Regions from separate parts of the Homo sapiens genome. Here region 1 is linked to region 2. The links come from fine-mapping of genetic effects on gene expression. Tissue or cell type: prefrontal cortex. Region 2 holds a variant in brackets; the other region holds the start of a gene. All regions are shown on one strand. Distances are from middle to middle.

Region 1 (8,112 bases), 53 kb after region 2:
GACTCACTTCTTTCCAGAGGATAATCGAGGAAGCCTCTCAACACAGATTATTGTTCTGAGATCCATCATAGGCAATATTGCTTATGGCTTTATGTTTTGTAATCTTTGAGATATTTGAAAGAATGGGAAAAATTTCATAATGCAATGCATATTTATATTACGGCATTCCCTTCCATTACTTTCCTAAGTAGCCCTTCTTTACTTTTTGGGAAATCACCATTCCATGTGTTCTTTGAAGTGTGGTCTTGAGATCTCTGGGGTTTTCTAAGTACCTTTCCAGAAGTTCACAAGCTCAAAACTATTTTTATAATAGAAAATTTTTAGCCATTCTCACTCTCATTCTCTCATAAGTACATAGTGAAATTTTCCAGAGGTTATATGAGGTGCTACCATAACAGATTAAATGAAATTGTAAATGATGTTGTGAGATTTCAGCTCTATTATCTTAACTTAGACAATAAAAATATTTGCAAAGGAAAATGATACCATTTTTACAACTAATTTCTTGAAAAACAGTGATTTTAACAAAAAGTACCAAATTATGTTTTATATAATAGTTTGTTAATATTATTTTAATATTAAATATTTAAATTTTGCTCTAATGTCTAATAATATAAATATTATGGATGTAATTCAGAGAAACTAAAATTCTGAGTATCTCAATAGTTTCTAGATGAGACAAAGATTCCTAGTACAAAGGAGAAGTACTACTGTCTACCACTTTCTATGTTTTATTATAATATAAACGTAAGGATCTTATACAGTGACATCACATAAGTGTAGTTAATCAGTCTCTGTTAGAACTTTCCTGGTTCTAACTCAGCTAAACTGATAAGTGCATTTCTATTATGGATTAATTACTAATTTTGATGCTTCTAAATCTTCATGAACAATCCAGTTTCTCCAAGATCCTGTCATTCTGATTCCCTGATATCCTTCCAATAAAATGCCTTGTGTGTATCTGCCAAATTATGTTTATCTTCCTTACAATCTATAACATCAGTTAGTAACATAAAAAAAATTCCCATGTCCCAAAATTGTGCCTACCTTCAGGTGTAAACAGATCAAATATTTAGCAAATTTTAATATTGAAATTAAAATGTTTTAAGGACTCTTCATTGATTCCTTGACAATAACAAGGAAAATTACCTTATTTTAACTTTGCATCCCTAAAGACACTGTACAACTCTGTAGCAACTAATGTAACCTGGATTGTATAATATTTATGCATGTACTGGCCTTATTTCTACAAAGAGAATAGCTGCAACTAAGAGTTGAGAACCAGGGGTAATCATTGTAATACTCTCAAAACTGCCACATGAATGTTGGTTCCCAGTTGTTCAGCATTTAATTGAATCAGAGTTGGGGTTTGTAATAAGTGTGCTTTTGTTTGTGTGTGAGTGTGTGTGACAGAGACAGAGAGTGAGAGAGAGAGAGAGAGAGAGAGACGGAGAAGGTTGGAGAGATAGGAGTAGAGAGAGAAATCATGTTTTATTATGTACGTGGCTGCATACATCAGTTGTCCTGTAACTTTGCCAGGTAGCTATTTTACAGCAGAAGTACACAAGCAAAGGAGTTAATAATTCCCCATTCTGTATGAGAAGAACAAGAGCATTTCTTGGTCCCCGAGAAGCTGAGAGAAAATTGAAAAAAGAACATAATGTTTGCCAGTATTGAGGAAAAGATGCCAGGCTGAAAAATCAGAGGGCAGTGGTTTTTGTGATTTCACCTGGGAGAGTCTGAGGAAATAGCTAGGATGATGTGTTGTGAGATTTACAGTCCAGAGTCAGCCCAATCTTAAGGGTGGCTGTGTCTCAACATGATACTTTGCCAGCTGAGAAAAACATTCCCAGGGAGATGGCAAAGAGGACGCTTCTCTGACAGTAAAATTCAAAGCTGCCAGCACATCCACCCTCTCACAGTTTTACCTGAATTCTTGCCTTCTTTCTGTTATAACTATATGCCACAGTAGCAGACAGTGTATGGCCAATAACCTCAAGATCATTTTTTGAGGGCAAATTATTAAGTTTGTTCTTCTCTAGATATGCACATTGACAAAGATCCCTACTGGAGTCCATCTGAAAAGACAAATTCATAACAATTAGCAATTTTTCTCTTATTGTGCTCACCAAAGTTCACATTTTGAACTTGTGATTTTTTTTACTTTGTTGGATTTTTATTTTTTTGCTGACTGTAGTAGAATATTACAGAAGTCTTCTGTGGACCTTAAAACTTTTCAGACATGGCTGGAAAACCTGCTAAACCATTTACTTGCTTGAGACCCTTGGACAGATTCTTTAACCAGATAGATCAGTTTTTTTTTCTCCTGTAAAAATGAGATGATAAATTATAACTAATGTGGTTTATTTTAATGATAAATAAGACCAATGTTTGTATAGGTGCTAGTGCATAGTGTATCCTCAACAAATTATACTTACTTATTTTATTAATGCTCCCAAATATTTTGTTTATTTAAATGCAAGATAGCTAAAATAATTCACCTGTTAGCAGAAAGAAGTTATTTCATTGTAAAAAGTCCAAATTATGTCACAGTTTGGCCTAAGATTAGATAAAGGAGGAATGGCTCAGAAGAGGCCAAAGTGAAGAAATGGCACAGAGTCAGACATTAATATTTATGTCTAGATTTTTATGGATACAAATATGACCCAATACTGCTCATTTAGAAAAGAAACAATTTTCTCCTCTTATTCTTACAGCTTTCCCAATCTTGGTGAGACCAAAGCAGTTGATGAATGGATAAAGTGGATAAATACCTTCATTCAGGCTCTTCCATAACTGTGCCATTGGCGGTTCAGTCCGGCTGATCTAGCAGGGGTATTGTGCTTACAATAAAAATGGCTTGGGGATGGTTCCATAAAGTAGTAGGGATATAGGGAACCAAGTTACAACTGGCAACATTAAATTCACTCAGACAATGAGGGAAACAGAGAATAAAACTTTACAGACCAAATATGTTAATGCCTATGTAATTGTATTTGAATATTGACATGTGATACCCACCCACCACCTTAAATAAACACATACAAAAGAAGTCTGCAATAACATCCTTTTGTCTTATTGACAACAAGTATGGCCATGCTACTATATGACTGTATTTGTGGTGTTTCGGCTGTGAACAGTGTACTCTGTGAGAATGTGTGTGTATGAGTGTATGTGTGTGTAAGAGAGAGGGGCAGAGAGAAAGGGGGGAGAGAGAGAGATACACAGACAGAAATTCTGTGCATTACTAATTGGTACACCACTGCCCTCACCAATCCCATGTGCTCTGTTGTGTTCCTCTGTGAAGAAAATGGTGCAATGGTGCTTAGGATAATTCCTCAGAAAAGTGGAAGAATCTGGCCTCTCTATCCTCATTTGCCCTCTTCTTCTCTCCTGTGTATCTTTTCACTTCTCCTGCACAAGCATTCTTACCTCTGTAATATTTCTTCTCCCAGCCCTCACTTGGAGCAGAATTGGAGCATGAGTCCAGGTTCTTAAAGACCGTGATTAGGTTCCCCTTGAAGCCTCTGAGCAACAAGCCTGCTTGGTAAAGTGGAGGCAACTTTATAGTGAGTGAGAGCATCCCTATGACCAGGCATGTCCCAGAATCCCCGAGCCTAGTCTTCGGAATCCTCTGGGCAGAAACATGGACTCGAGGGTCATTAAGTCATAGTAAGTCTTTATTCCTCTTCACTGCATCTGCAGAGAAACACCATGCTAGATATAACTCCTTAGCTCAGGGGAGCAGATGTGTTATGAAAGGATGGGAAGGGAGCTATCCTGAAGAGAGAGGAATCTGTTTGGGGAATGATGTTAATTCCGCTTCCCTCAGGAGCCATGAAAGCATTGATTTTGGACCATTAACTCTTCACAGTGTGACCATGAAACTGTTCTCAGCAACTTTTCTGTTTTAATATGTTTGTGTAAATCCTGATGTAGTTTCACAGCTGTTACAATTGAGGCTTCAAAAGATGAAGGAGAAGACATCTCAAATAGACAAATTAGACTCTGTGGTACAACTCTGTTTATTGGCAGTGTGCATGCCTGCAGATAATAGCAGCAACTTTCTTCCAACCCACCAAGATTCTCCTTCTCAGTCTATAACTAATGGTGAACAGATAGTCTTTGAAGAGAGGCTTTCATGTGTTTCAGCTCTTTTGGCAGAAAGTGAAGAAAATTCTACGTTTTCCTTATAAAACATATTATATTGTCCCTTCCAGCCAGAGCAGAGGTAGTGTTTCCTGAGAGGCTCCCTTCCTGAATGATGACATAGTAGACCCGATAGTACTACCAGGACATGCTGCAGAGCCTGGTTTTCCTGACTATAGTTAGAAATAGACTGAGGGAAAAATAAGTACATTAGACAATTAGTTGGTATTTTTTGCCTCCTAAGTTCAGACTATTTTGAGTTGTTAGCACAGAAACAGCAATGTCGTCTGTGGTCCAAGAGAGATTCTGGTTTGATCTGCCACGTTCTTGTGTTCATTACTTCTCTTTTGATTAATGAGAAAGTAACTCCTGAGGTTCCTGTTTCTCCCTCATTGTGTCCATCTTCCTTACTGTATCCACATTTATCTTCCCAAATCAAGTCTGACTCTATCCAATTTCTGCTTAAAATTCCTTCCCATGACCCCTACATTCTCCATTGTATACTGTAGACTTTATGTAATAAGGGGCAAACACCATTGTTGCCAAAGTCCTTCACTCAATACCCAATCAACTTTTTATACTTTCATTATACTACATGACTCCCGAACACACATCTTGTCTTTGATAATCAAAAGTCCTCCATATGAAATAACTTCATCTCATTTCTACTTTGCTTCAGCACTTTCTCAATTGTCCTATACTTCTTAATGACCTTTCATATGAATCAATCTGATATAATCTTTGTGTCTTTTGTATTTTCACATCAGTGTGTGCCACTATTATAACAGGCAAATTTTATTTTGTGTTGGTTTTGTGTTTTCTGTCTTCCATTATTTTATGGATTGATATTAGAGTGATGTTTAAGTCAACTTTATCCTTCAGTTCACTTAGTATAGTGCTTTGATTGTAGGAGGTGTTCTGGCATTGAATTACATTATTTTTAAAACATAAAAATTCTAGTTCTGTTAGGGTCATATCATATAATCATATATCTCCTAATTGGTCACTGTACCTACCCCTCTCCTATTCCCAAGACTATTTCACTGTGACTTCTAGAATCAATTTTTTATGAGCAGTGATATTATTTTTGGCCTTAAACCACTTCTGATGTTCTGTTTCTCTTCCTTTTGAAACAGAAACCCAGCTGTTCCCTGAGGACATTACTTCTGAAAAGTGTTGAAGGATTGGATATATTTTCCCACTATTTTCACTGTTTCCTCATGCCAAATAGCCTAAAGGCCTAGAGACTTTTTGTCTTGGACTTTTGACAGTTTGACATTATAATGCCTCGGGGAGGACCTTCTTGAGTTGAATTTACATAGGGGATTTTGAGCTTTCGGATCTGGATATCTACATCTCTCTTCATATTTGGAAAGTTTTCAGCTGTTATTTTATTAAATAGGTTTCCTTTGTCCTTTTCTTTCTCTTCTCCTTCTAGAATTCTCATAATACAAATATTTGTTTACTTAATGGCATCCCATTAAGGAACACCATTATTTCTTTACTTTTTTAAATCCTTCTTTTGTTTTTCTTTGACTTATTTCAAACAACCTGTCAACAGATTCTTCTGCTTGACCAAGTCTGCTATTGAATCTCTCTATTGTAACTTGAAAACTTATTCATTGAATTCTTCAGCTACAGGATTTCTATTTGATTTTTATGATTTTTATCTTCTGTTGAATTTCTCATTTGTTTCATGAATTGTTTTCCTGATTTTATTGAATTGTCTATGCTGTATATTCTTGTATTTTATTGAGTCTTCTCAGCATCATTATTTTGATTTTTTTTCTTTGGCAATTTGTTGATTTTCTTTTTACTGGAGTCTGTTACTACAGTGTTATGTTCCTTTGGTGGTATCATATGTCTTTGCCTTTTCATGTTTCTTGTGTCTCTATATTGATGCCTGTGTATCTGCTTATCTCCAAACTTTCCAGAGTGGTTTTTATACAGGACAACTATCACCTGCAGTTGGGTTTTAGTGTGCCAGTTGGGAAGAGTGTGGTGACTCTGTTTCCAGATGGGTGTAGCATAGTCTCCGTGCAGCTTCCTGAGCTGAGTTTAATGTCAGCAATAACTGTGGGTGCCTCAGTGGCTTAGACTGTAGAAGTTTGTAGTGGCACAGCAGTAGTGGTGGCACAATTTGTTTATGTCCTTAGTGTCAAGGGCTTTTGGGGTCCTCTTATTTTTAATTTTTCCCGCAGTGAGGGGACTCAGCTGACAGAATCCCTCAGATTTGACATGGCCTATAAGCAGCTGCAGCAGCGCTGGGCTCGAAGTACAGTGGCTTGGAGTGGCTGTGGAGCCAGGGTTCTAGGCTCAGGGTCTCACAAATGAGCACTCCTCTCCTTCAGTTACTTTCATTAAAATGTAATTATTAATTCATTGTTCTGGCTATCGGTGTGAGGCAACTAAGAGCTGGAACATTTTAGTAGTCCATCTTGCTCACATTGTCAAGATTAACCCCTTGATGAGAGGATATTAACTATCACATTGAAAGGGCAGTGACATAGAGGCAATTATTTTTCAATATATAATTGATTTACTTTGGCTATTCATTTGATCTTGCTTCATTTATTAAAAAGCTGTTTGTCATAAATTATACATTTATACATGTGTATTTTTGTGTTTGGACTGTGTGGTTCTGCTTTTTGTCTGTTCTTGTACAAGTATTTCACAGTTTTCATAAGTGATACTATAAAATAAATTATGGAATATAATAACATAAATCCTAAAATTTTGTTCTTCAGGATTTCCAGCCAATTTCTTTTAAAATGTTTATAACACTTTGAAAACAAAAACAAGAGGACAAATAAGCAAACAAATTCATTAAAATATTTATTGCATTGAATATATAGTTCAATTTTAGAGAATGTTTTTAAAAGGTTATTGATTATTCCAAATCATGAACTAGGTATATCTTTTCATGTATTTATGTATTTAAAAAGTTCCTTTGAAGGATTATTATGCTTTTATTTTAGAAGTTTTGCATATCATTTGTTAGAGTTAGGTCAAAGCATTTGATGTTCTGTGATGCCATTTATTTATTTATTTATTTATTTTATTTATTTATTTTTATTATACTTTAAGTTTTAGGGTACATGTGCACAATGTGCAGGTTTGTTACATATGTATAAATGTGCCATGATTGTGTGCTGCACCCATTAACTCATCATTTAACATTAGGTATATCTCCTAATGCTATCCCTCCCCGCTGCCCCCACCCCACAATAGGCCCCGGTGTGTGACGTTCCGCTTCCTGTGTCCATGTGTTTTCATTGTTCAATTCCCACCTATGAGTGAGAACATGCAGTGTTTGGTTTTTTTGTCCTTGCGATAGTTTGCTGAGAATGATGGTTTCCAGCTTCATCCATGTCCCTACAAAGGACATGAACTCATCATTTTTATGGCTGCATAGTATTCCATGGTGTATATGTGCCACATTTTCTTCATCCAGTCTATCATTGTTGGACATTTGGCTTGGTTCCAAGTCTTTGCTATTGTGAATAGTGCCGCAATAAACATACGTGTGCATGTGTCTTTATAGCAGCATGATTTATAATCCTTTGGGTATGTACCCAGTAATGGGATTGCTGGGTCAAATGGTATTTCTAGTTCTAGATCCCTGAGGAATCGCCACACTGACTTCCACAATGGTTGAACTAGTTTACAGTGCCACCAACAGTGTAAAAGTGTTCCTATTTCTCCACATCCTCTCCAGCACCTGTTGTTTCCTGACTTTTTAATGATCGATGCCATTTAAAAATATATAATTTTCAAGATTTTAATTTATAAATTTTTTATTAGTATATAAAAATATAATTTAAAAAATTTTATTATTATTTTTTATAGAAACAGGGTCTCCATAAGTTGCCTAGGCTGGTCTTGAAATCCTGGGCTTAAGTAACCCTCCTGCATATGGCCAAAATTGACATAAACAACACATTCATGGTTTTCAAAAATGGC
Region 2 (8,112 bases):
GGGTAAGCACAAGGTGTGATTACCAGTTGAGTTAAGAACTTTAGTTAGCATGGAGTTACACCAGAAGTAGCCTCCGGGTGGTGCCGGGGCACTGGTAAGCATCCTGGTCTGGTTACACCAAGAGGCATTTGGGATGGAGTAACAGAACGGGAACTTGTGTCTTGTAGGGTCTGAGAATAGTGGGACCTGTCCTTTCGGGACCGGTGGTATAGGGGTGGATGAATTTCTTGTATAATTAAAGGGGGTAGGGAGAGGAACTGCCACTAAGGGAGGTCTTCCAAGGGCCGCACAGAGGAAGCAGTGGGAGAGGTTTTGTACCCCTGTGGATTGGAGCAGTTGTGTACCTTCTGAGATTAAAGTTAACCACGAGAAGGGGGAGGACATGGCCTGGTCAGCTGCCAGTTGAAGCTGGTTGGCAAGCCTTCTCGGCCGACTGGATTGAGGAGGCTAAGTCGGATAACCCTGTGACAGTGGTTTTAAGGGTCCTGGCAATGCGGATCTTAGCTACCGGATACATAAAAGTTCTGTGCTCATATAGTCCTCCATCTATACCGGAGGCCCAGCGGGGGTCTCAAGGGTCAGAGATTTGGAGGTTAAATCCGTTAAAGCCTCCTGAAGTGTTGACAGAGAACATGGTATCCTTTCTATAAATGGATGCCTCATGGATATTGCACCAGTGCCACAGGCAGCCTACATTTTCTTTGACCCAGGTGGTATTGCATTTGGAGTTACTTTGATCATACAGGAAGCAAAGCGCTGGGTTTTTTGTATTTGGGCCTAAGGAGGAGAATTTTAGACCTAGGAAAGTTATGGGTGCCTGGCACCTTGCTGGCGGGCATGCTGCCGTGGCTACTAGTCTAGAGGAGACTGCCTGTCCGGAATTCCAATTCTCAGTGAGGAAAAAAACCCAGTGAGAGGGAGTCTGAGAGGGGGCTTGTCTACTACGACTGGTGTGCAAGAGTAAGAAGAGTGACAAGACAAAAAAAGCGAACTTCTTGTTGGTGAAAGTTCTGGAGGGAGCCTTGCCACACTAGTTCGTCTATATAGGCTAACAGATTTTCAGGCCAGTGAAGTGTGTTAGCAAAAGTAGGGAATGACCAGCTTTCCTCGAGAAGAACTTGAATAAATTGTTGGAGCCTGTCACACGGAGAATTCATGCGGTATTTGATTTAGAGAGTTTCAGTTTGGTTGGGGAGAGGGAGGTGACAGTCCAAGTGGCCTGATCTTGTGTAGGTGCCCTCTTAAGATGGGAAATATGGTACCAGGAAGGAAGGCCTATAAGTTTAGCTGCCGTCAGTGTTGTAAGAATTACCGTATGGGGCCTTTCCACCGGGGGGAGAGGCCTCTTGCCTGGAGGTCTTTTACTAGTACCTGATCTCCTGGGGTTATTATGGCCAGACTGTCTGGGCCGAGTGGTCCGGGCTTTGGAAGGCTGCGGTCGGCGTGCTCTCTTAGCAGCTCCCTTAACAGGGTGAGGTAGGGCAGGTACGTGCTAAGAGGTGGGGTATTCACAGGGAGCTCTTGAAAGAGGAAGGGGCGCCCCTATAGGAGTTCAAAGGGGCTAAGTCCTGTGGGGCTTCGGGGTGCTGCCCGGAGCCGCGCGAGGGCAAAGGGAAGTAAGGTTACCCACGATTGGCGTGTCTCCAGAGCCAGTTTGATTAGGTGTTGTTTGACAAGGCCGTTGGCGCGTTCCACTTTTCCAGAAGACTGTGGATGGTATGGAGTGTGTAGCTTCCAGTTAACGCCAAGTGTGGTTGTCACCTGTTTGACTATCTTGGAGATAAAAGCAGGCCCATTTTCAGATTGGATTGTCCGAGGGAGGCCAAATCTCGGGATTATGTGTTCAATGAGGGTTGAAGCTACCACCTCTGCTGTTTCATGAGTGGTGGGATAGGCTTCAATCCAACCTGAGAAAGTATCTACTAGAGTAAGAAGATAACGGAACTTTTTTTTTTTTTTTAATTTATTTATTTTTTATTGATAATTCTCGGGTGTTTCTCACAGAGGGAGATTTGGCAGGGTCATAGGACAATAGTGGAGGGAAGGTCAGCAGATAAACAAGTGAACAAAGGTCTCTGGTTTTCCTAGGCAGAGGACCCCGCGGCCTTCCGCAGTGTTTGTGTCCCTGGGTACTTGAGATTAGGGAGTGGTGATGACTCTTAACGAGCATGCTGCCTTCAAGCATCTGTTTAACAAAGCACATCTTGCACCGCCCTTAATCCATTTAACCCTGAGTGAACACAGCACATGTTTCAGAGAGCACAGGGTTGGGGGTAAGGTCACAGATCAACAGGATCCCACGGCAGAAGAAGTTTTCTTAGTACAGAACATAATGAAAAGTCTCCCATGTCTACTTCTTTCTACACAGACACGGCAACCATCCGATTTCTCAATCTTTTCCCCACCTTTCCCGCCCTTCTATCCACAAAGCCTCCATTGTCATCTTGGCCCGTTCTCAATGAGCTGTTGGGCACACCTCCCAGACGGGGTGGTGGCCGGGCAGAGGTGCTCCTCACATCCCAGACGGGGTGGCGGGGCAGAGGCGCTCCCCACATCTCAGACGATGGGCGGCCGGGCAGAGACGCTCCTCACTTCCTAGATGTGATGGCAGCCAGGAAGAGGTGCTCCTCACTTCCTAGGTGGGATGGCGGCCGGGCGGAGACGCTCCTCACTTTCCAGACTGGGCAGCCAGGCAGAGGGGCTCCTCACATCCCAGACGATGGGCGGCCAGGCAGAGACGCTCCTCACTTCCCAGACGGCGTGGCAGCCGGGCAGAGGCTGCAATCTTGGCACTTTGGGAGGCCAAGGCAGGCAGCTGGGAGGTGGAGGTTGTAGCGAGCCGAGATCACGCCACTGCACTCCAGCCTGGGCACCATTGAGCACTGAGTGAACGAGACTCCGTCTGCAATCCCGGCACCTCGGGAGGCCGAGGCTGGCGGATCACCTGCGGTTAGGGACTGGAGACCGGCCTGGCCAACACGGCGAAACCCCGTCTCCACCAAAACCAGTCAGGCGTGGCGGCGCGAGCCTGCAATCGCAGGCACTCGGCAGGCTGAGTCAGGAGAATCAGGCAGGGAGGTTGCAGTGAGCCAAGATGGCAGCAGTACAGTCCAGCTTCGGCTCAGCATGAGAGGGAGACCGTGGAAAGAGAGGGAGAGGGAGACCGTGGGGAGAGGGAGAGGGAGAGG[AAGAGGG/G]AGAGCTCCTAATTTTGTATTTTTAGTAGAGACGGGGTTTCTTCATGTTGCTCAGGCTGTGTCTTGAACTCCCGATCTCAGGTGATCTGCCCGCCTCGGCCTCTCAAAGTCCTGGGATTACAGGCGTGATCCACTGCACCTGGCCCCAAGCTGCCGATCTCATCTGAAAACAAAGAGACCCATCTTGGCTGGGGGAGTCAGGGAGGGCTTTCCCTGTAGAGGAGTCTGAGGAGCTGAAATCTGAAGGACCAGGAGCGATAACGGAACTTTTTGTGTCTAGGCATGTGGGTGAAGTCAACTTGCCAGTCTTCTCCTGGCTGATGTTCTCTTAGCTGGTGACAGGGACCTGGGAGCTTAAGTTTTCCCTGAGGGTTTGCCACTGTGCAAACATGGCATTCCTGATGTATTTGCTTCAGTAAGGAATAAAGGGAAGGATGGTAGATTATGGGTTCAAGAAAGTTATATAAAGCCTTTGGGCCTATATGTAACGAACGGTGCATGTCGGTGAGGATGAGTTTCTTCTGACTGCACGGGAGAACTACTCTATCATCCACGAATATCCAGCCCTGATTACTCTTGTTAGGGGTGTGGCTATGAAAGCGCTCATTGGAGTTGGTTTTTACTCCTGAGTGACCCATGAGGTGGACTAGCTCTTCAGGGGAGTAATCGGGAGTGTAAGCAGGAGAGAGGAAGCACACAGGAGTGGGGGAAGGGGCCAAGAGGGCCGTGGCCCGGGCAGTGGTGTTGGCGAAATTGTTGCCTAATGATATAGGGTCTTTAGAATTTTGGTGGCTTTTGCAATGGATGATGGCTACCTGTGTGGGGGCTTTTAGCACCTGGATGAGTTTCTCAATGAGGGGTCCATTGACAATAGGAGTACCTTTAGTGGTAAGGAACCCCCGTTCCTGCCAGAGAATGGAGTAGGTATGCGCTATTAAGTAGGCATACTTGGAATCAGTGTATATGTTTACTTTTTTGTTTTTAGATAGAATTAGAGCTCTAGTAAGAGCTATGAGTTCTGCCTTCTGGGAGGTTATACCAGTGGGAAGTGGTTTGGCCTCAACTACTTGAGATGAGGTGACCACGGCGTATGCCGCTCGTCGTTGGCCCTGCGGCGTGGAGATGGAGCTACCATCCACAGACAGGGTCTGATGGGGATCTAGGATGGGGTTGTCTTGGAGGCTTAGGTGCGCGGGGGGTAGGGTTGATAGGATTTAAGAACACGAGTGTAAGGATGCAGGGTCCTTTTCTGGGCAGGGGAGGAGGGTAGCTGGGTTTAAAGTTGGAGAGGTAGTAAGTGTGATGTGTGGGTTTTCAATAAACAGGAGATGAAATAGCTGGAGTCTGGAGGGGGTCAGGTGACTCAGGCACTTGTGTGAGAGTAAGTCTTGTAGCCTATGTGAGGAGAAAACAGTGAGAGGGTGCCCTAAGGTAAGCTTAAGAGCCTCTTTGGTGAGTTTCGCTGCCGCAGCCAAAGCCTGCAGGCACGGCTGCCAGCCCTGGACAGTGGGCTCGAGCTGCTTGGAAAGGTAGGCTACTGGCTGGTGTGTTCTTCCTACCAGTTGGGCCAGGAGCCCTGTAGCAACCTTTTCCCGCTCATCGGTAAAGAGATGGAATGGGCGTAGCGGGTTTGGGAGTGAGAGGACTGGGGCTGTTATGAGGCAATTTTTAAGCTTATTGAAAAGATTGGCTACTAGTTTTGGCTCAGACAGTGGGCCAAGGGGGGTCTGTTTGGTGGCCTGATACAGGGGCCTTGCTAGGACTCCGAAATTGGGGACCCAATGTCTGAAAAAGCCGACTAGCCCCAAGAAGGAGAGAATATCTTCAGCATCTTGTGGAGGCTGAAGATTTTGTAAAAGGCTGATTCTGTCTGAGGTTAGGCCTTTTGAGTTTGGGGTGAGACGTATACCTAAGTAGGTGACTTTAGAGGTACATAGTTGGGCTTTGGACGGGGTGACTCTATAGCCTCAGTTTCCTAGGAAGTTTAAGAGAGTACAAGTGTCCTTAAGGCAATCTGTCTCAGAGGGGCTGCAAAGGAGCAGGTCATCAACATATTGGATAACAGTACTGGCCTCCAAAGGGCAGCGAGCGAGGTCTTGGGCCAGTGCCTGTCCAAAGAAATGAGGGCTGTCTCTAAACCCCTGTAGCAGAACCGTCCAGGTGAGTTGTTTAGAGACGCCAGTGTCTGGGTCCTCCCATGTGAAAGCAAAGAGGAAGTAACAAGCGGGGTCTAGTGGGATAGAGAAAAAGGCATCTTTAAGGTCCAGAACAGTGAAGTGAGACCTGTTGGGGGGGATGCGAGAGAGGAGTGTGTATGGATTAGGAACTACCGGGACTGTAGGGATGACTGCCTCGTTGATGAGGCGAAGATCTTGTACTAGACGGTAAGTCCCAGAGGCTTTTCGTACCGGCAGAATAGGAGTATTGCAAGGAGAATTAGTGGTAATTAGGATGTGTTGTTGTAGAAGCCGAATAATAATGGGTTTTAGTCCTCGACGGTGCTCTAAGGAAATGGGGAACTGAGGTCGGGCAGGGAACTTGAGTGGGTCCTTTAACTTAATAAGGACTGGCTTATGGTGTGTGGCAACAACGGGAGTGTTGGTGTCCCAAACTTTGGGGTCAACGGGGGTAGGGAAGACTAATGGCAGGGTTGGAGAGGCCTGGGCTGCTGTATCGGCTGAGAGGAGGGGTAGGAGAAGAGCTAGGTGGGTGGATGGGCCGGGCCGGAAGACTACTGAGGCTCCTAACTTGGTCAGGAGATCTCTCCCTAGGAGAGGGACTGGACATGAAGGGATGATGAGGAAAGAGTGTGTGAAGAACGAGTGGTCTAGGCGGCAGGGCAGTGAAGGTGTCTGGCGGTAGGTGGAGGGAGTGCCATCAATCCCCATAACAGAGATTGAGGAGGGTTGGCTGGGCCCACTAAAAGATGGCAAAACAGAGTAGGTAGCCCCTGGGTCCAGTAAAAAGGAAATGGACTTACCTGCTACCTGAAGCATTACCCTGAGCTTGGCAAGGGTGAGAGGGGTTCCCGAGTCTGGGCCTCTTCAGTCATCGTCCAGTTGGAGGAGCTGGAAGGCGCCTTCACCATCCGGGGAGGGGTCGCCATGTGGAGACACAGCGGCCGCTCTGAGGCCGGGGCAGTCTGACCTCCAGTGCCCCATTTGTCGGCAGTTAGGGCACGGGCGCATTGGCGGCTTGGGGTTTGGGCACTGCTTTGCCCAATGACCTGGATTGCCGCACTTGAAACAGTTGTAAGGCAGGCAGGACGGTTGCTGTTGGCTAGGGCACCGGCTGGCCCAGTGTCCCGAGTTGCCGCACTTGAAGCAGGCGCCAGATGGGGCCCGGGAGATTGTACCTCTACCTTTCTTGCCTGGGCTCTTAGGGAATGCCGGTTGCACGGCAGCCGCCAGGGCCTGGGTTTGGAGCTGAACTTTTTGTTTTAATCTTGCCTGTTGTTGTACCTCAGCCGCCTCCTCTCGGGAATTAAAAACTTTGAACGCCAGCTTTACTAAGTCCTGAATAGGGGTTTGGAGGCCTTCCTCCGCCTATTTTAGTTTTTTTCTAATATCTCTTGCTGACTGGGAAATAAAATATGTTGCCAAGATGGTTGCCCCTGCAGGGGAGGCCGGATCTAGGCGGGTATAGTGGACTAAGGCATCAGTCAGCCGATTTAGGAAGACTGCCGGATTTTCATCCGGGTATTGTACAATTTCCTTTAGTTTGTCAAAGTTGACTGATTTATTGGAGGCCACCTGCATCCCTGCCAGGAGGCATTGAACCATTATGTCCCGGCGGCGACGCCCTGCTTGCCCAACTTGGTAATCCCACTCTGGATCGGTGGATGGAACCGCCTGTGTTCCAACGGGTACGTTGGGGTCTGTTAGATGTAATTGATTGGCATGCTGCCGTGCTGCAATTAGAATGCGTTCTCTTTCCTCAGGGGAAAGGGTGGAGGTAAGAATAATATGGATATCGTGCCAAGTGAGGTCATAAACCTGACAGAGATAGTGAAATTCTTTTGTGAAAAGAGTAGGGTTGGTGGAGAAAGAGCCTAGGTGTCTTTCTATTTTGGACAAATCAACGAGGGAGAAAGGCACATGAACTCGAACAATGCCTTCTGCTCCAGCCACTTCGCGCAGCGGGGCAAGGAGTGCCGGCCTGGCCTGGGTGTGTGCGGCCACAGGGGACTTGGGAGGGGCAGGTGAGGGTAGTGGTGGAGGAGGAGGAGATGATGGAGGTGGAGGAGGAGGTGGCGTGATTGGCGAAGGAGGGACCCGTGAGGAAGTGGGCGGTGCGTGACCTGAAGGTGGAGCCGAGGGGGGTGGGGAAGCGTATGGTGGCGGCAGAGCATGGGCTGCAGTTTGGAGGGGAGGGGAAGATAAGTTATCTATGGGGTCTGAGAGAGGAGAAAGATCATCTTTGTCCGGATCAGGAGAGGTTTTGGGAGAGGTTTTAGCTAAAAGGACTTGCACTAGTGAACACGGGGCGCAGAGGTCTGGTGGAGAGTGAAGGTCCCAGAACCCTTGAACATATTTGATTTCTGACCATTTGCCTTGCTTCTGACAAAAATTGGTAAGGTCGTTTAGGATATTGAAGTTGAGTGTGCCTTCGGGGGGCCAGCGAGATTGGTTGTCTAAGGTATATTGCGGCCAGGCAACTGTGCAGAAGAAAATTAGTCGCTTTCGTTTTAAATCTTGGTCGAGTTGTAAAGTTGGGAGGTTGCGCAGGAGGCACCCTAAGGGGGTGTTTTGCACGATTTTGGACTGGGTGGACCCCATCCCCTTCCCTTTATGGCCACGGTCTGAGGGACAGCAGAAGCATCCTTCTGGGGTCACTCAGACCACGTGGCTCCTGGAGCCTCGGATCGGCTACTTCAGACACAGACGTCTCCGAGTAGTCAGTGCCGATTTGGACTTCC

Alleles and levels. Positions count from the first base shown, and alleles are read on the strand shown. Sizes are in standard deviations (SD) of each study's normalised expression.
For the expression in prefrontal cortex of the gene that starts at base 3,518 in region 1, allele AAGAGGG in region 2 goes with a higher level than allele G (moderate effect, 0.51 SD a copy in CommonMind).

What was found. PIP is the estimated chance that this variant, and not a neighbour inherited with it, causes the effect.
Region 1: OR52E4 starts here. The variant in region 2 is fine-mapped to the expression of OR52E4 in prefrontal cortex (CommonMind, PIP 0.90).

The regions. Positions count from the first base shown.
Region 1 is chr11:5,876,035-5,884,146 of GRCh38, reverse strand. OR52E4 (olfactory receptor family 52 subfamily E member 4) reads right to left here and starts at 3,518. Exons shown (of 2, transcript NM_001005165.2): 1 at 3,433-3,518. It overlaps LOC112268071 (a long non-coding RNA gene), which reads left to right. Exons shown (of 3, transcript XR_002957231.2): 3 at 2,718-3,052.
Region 2 is chr11:5,929,076-5,937,187 of GRCh38, reverse strand. The region is part of intron 2 of LOC112268071 (a long non-coding RNA gene); the gene reads left to right. Among named protein-coding and RNA genes, the nearest start is that of OR56A3, 9.1 kb to the left of the region's middle. RefSeq lists an enhancer at 8,099-8,112. The variant AAGAGGG/G (reference allele first, on the strand shown) is at 3,189.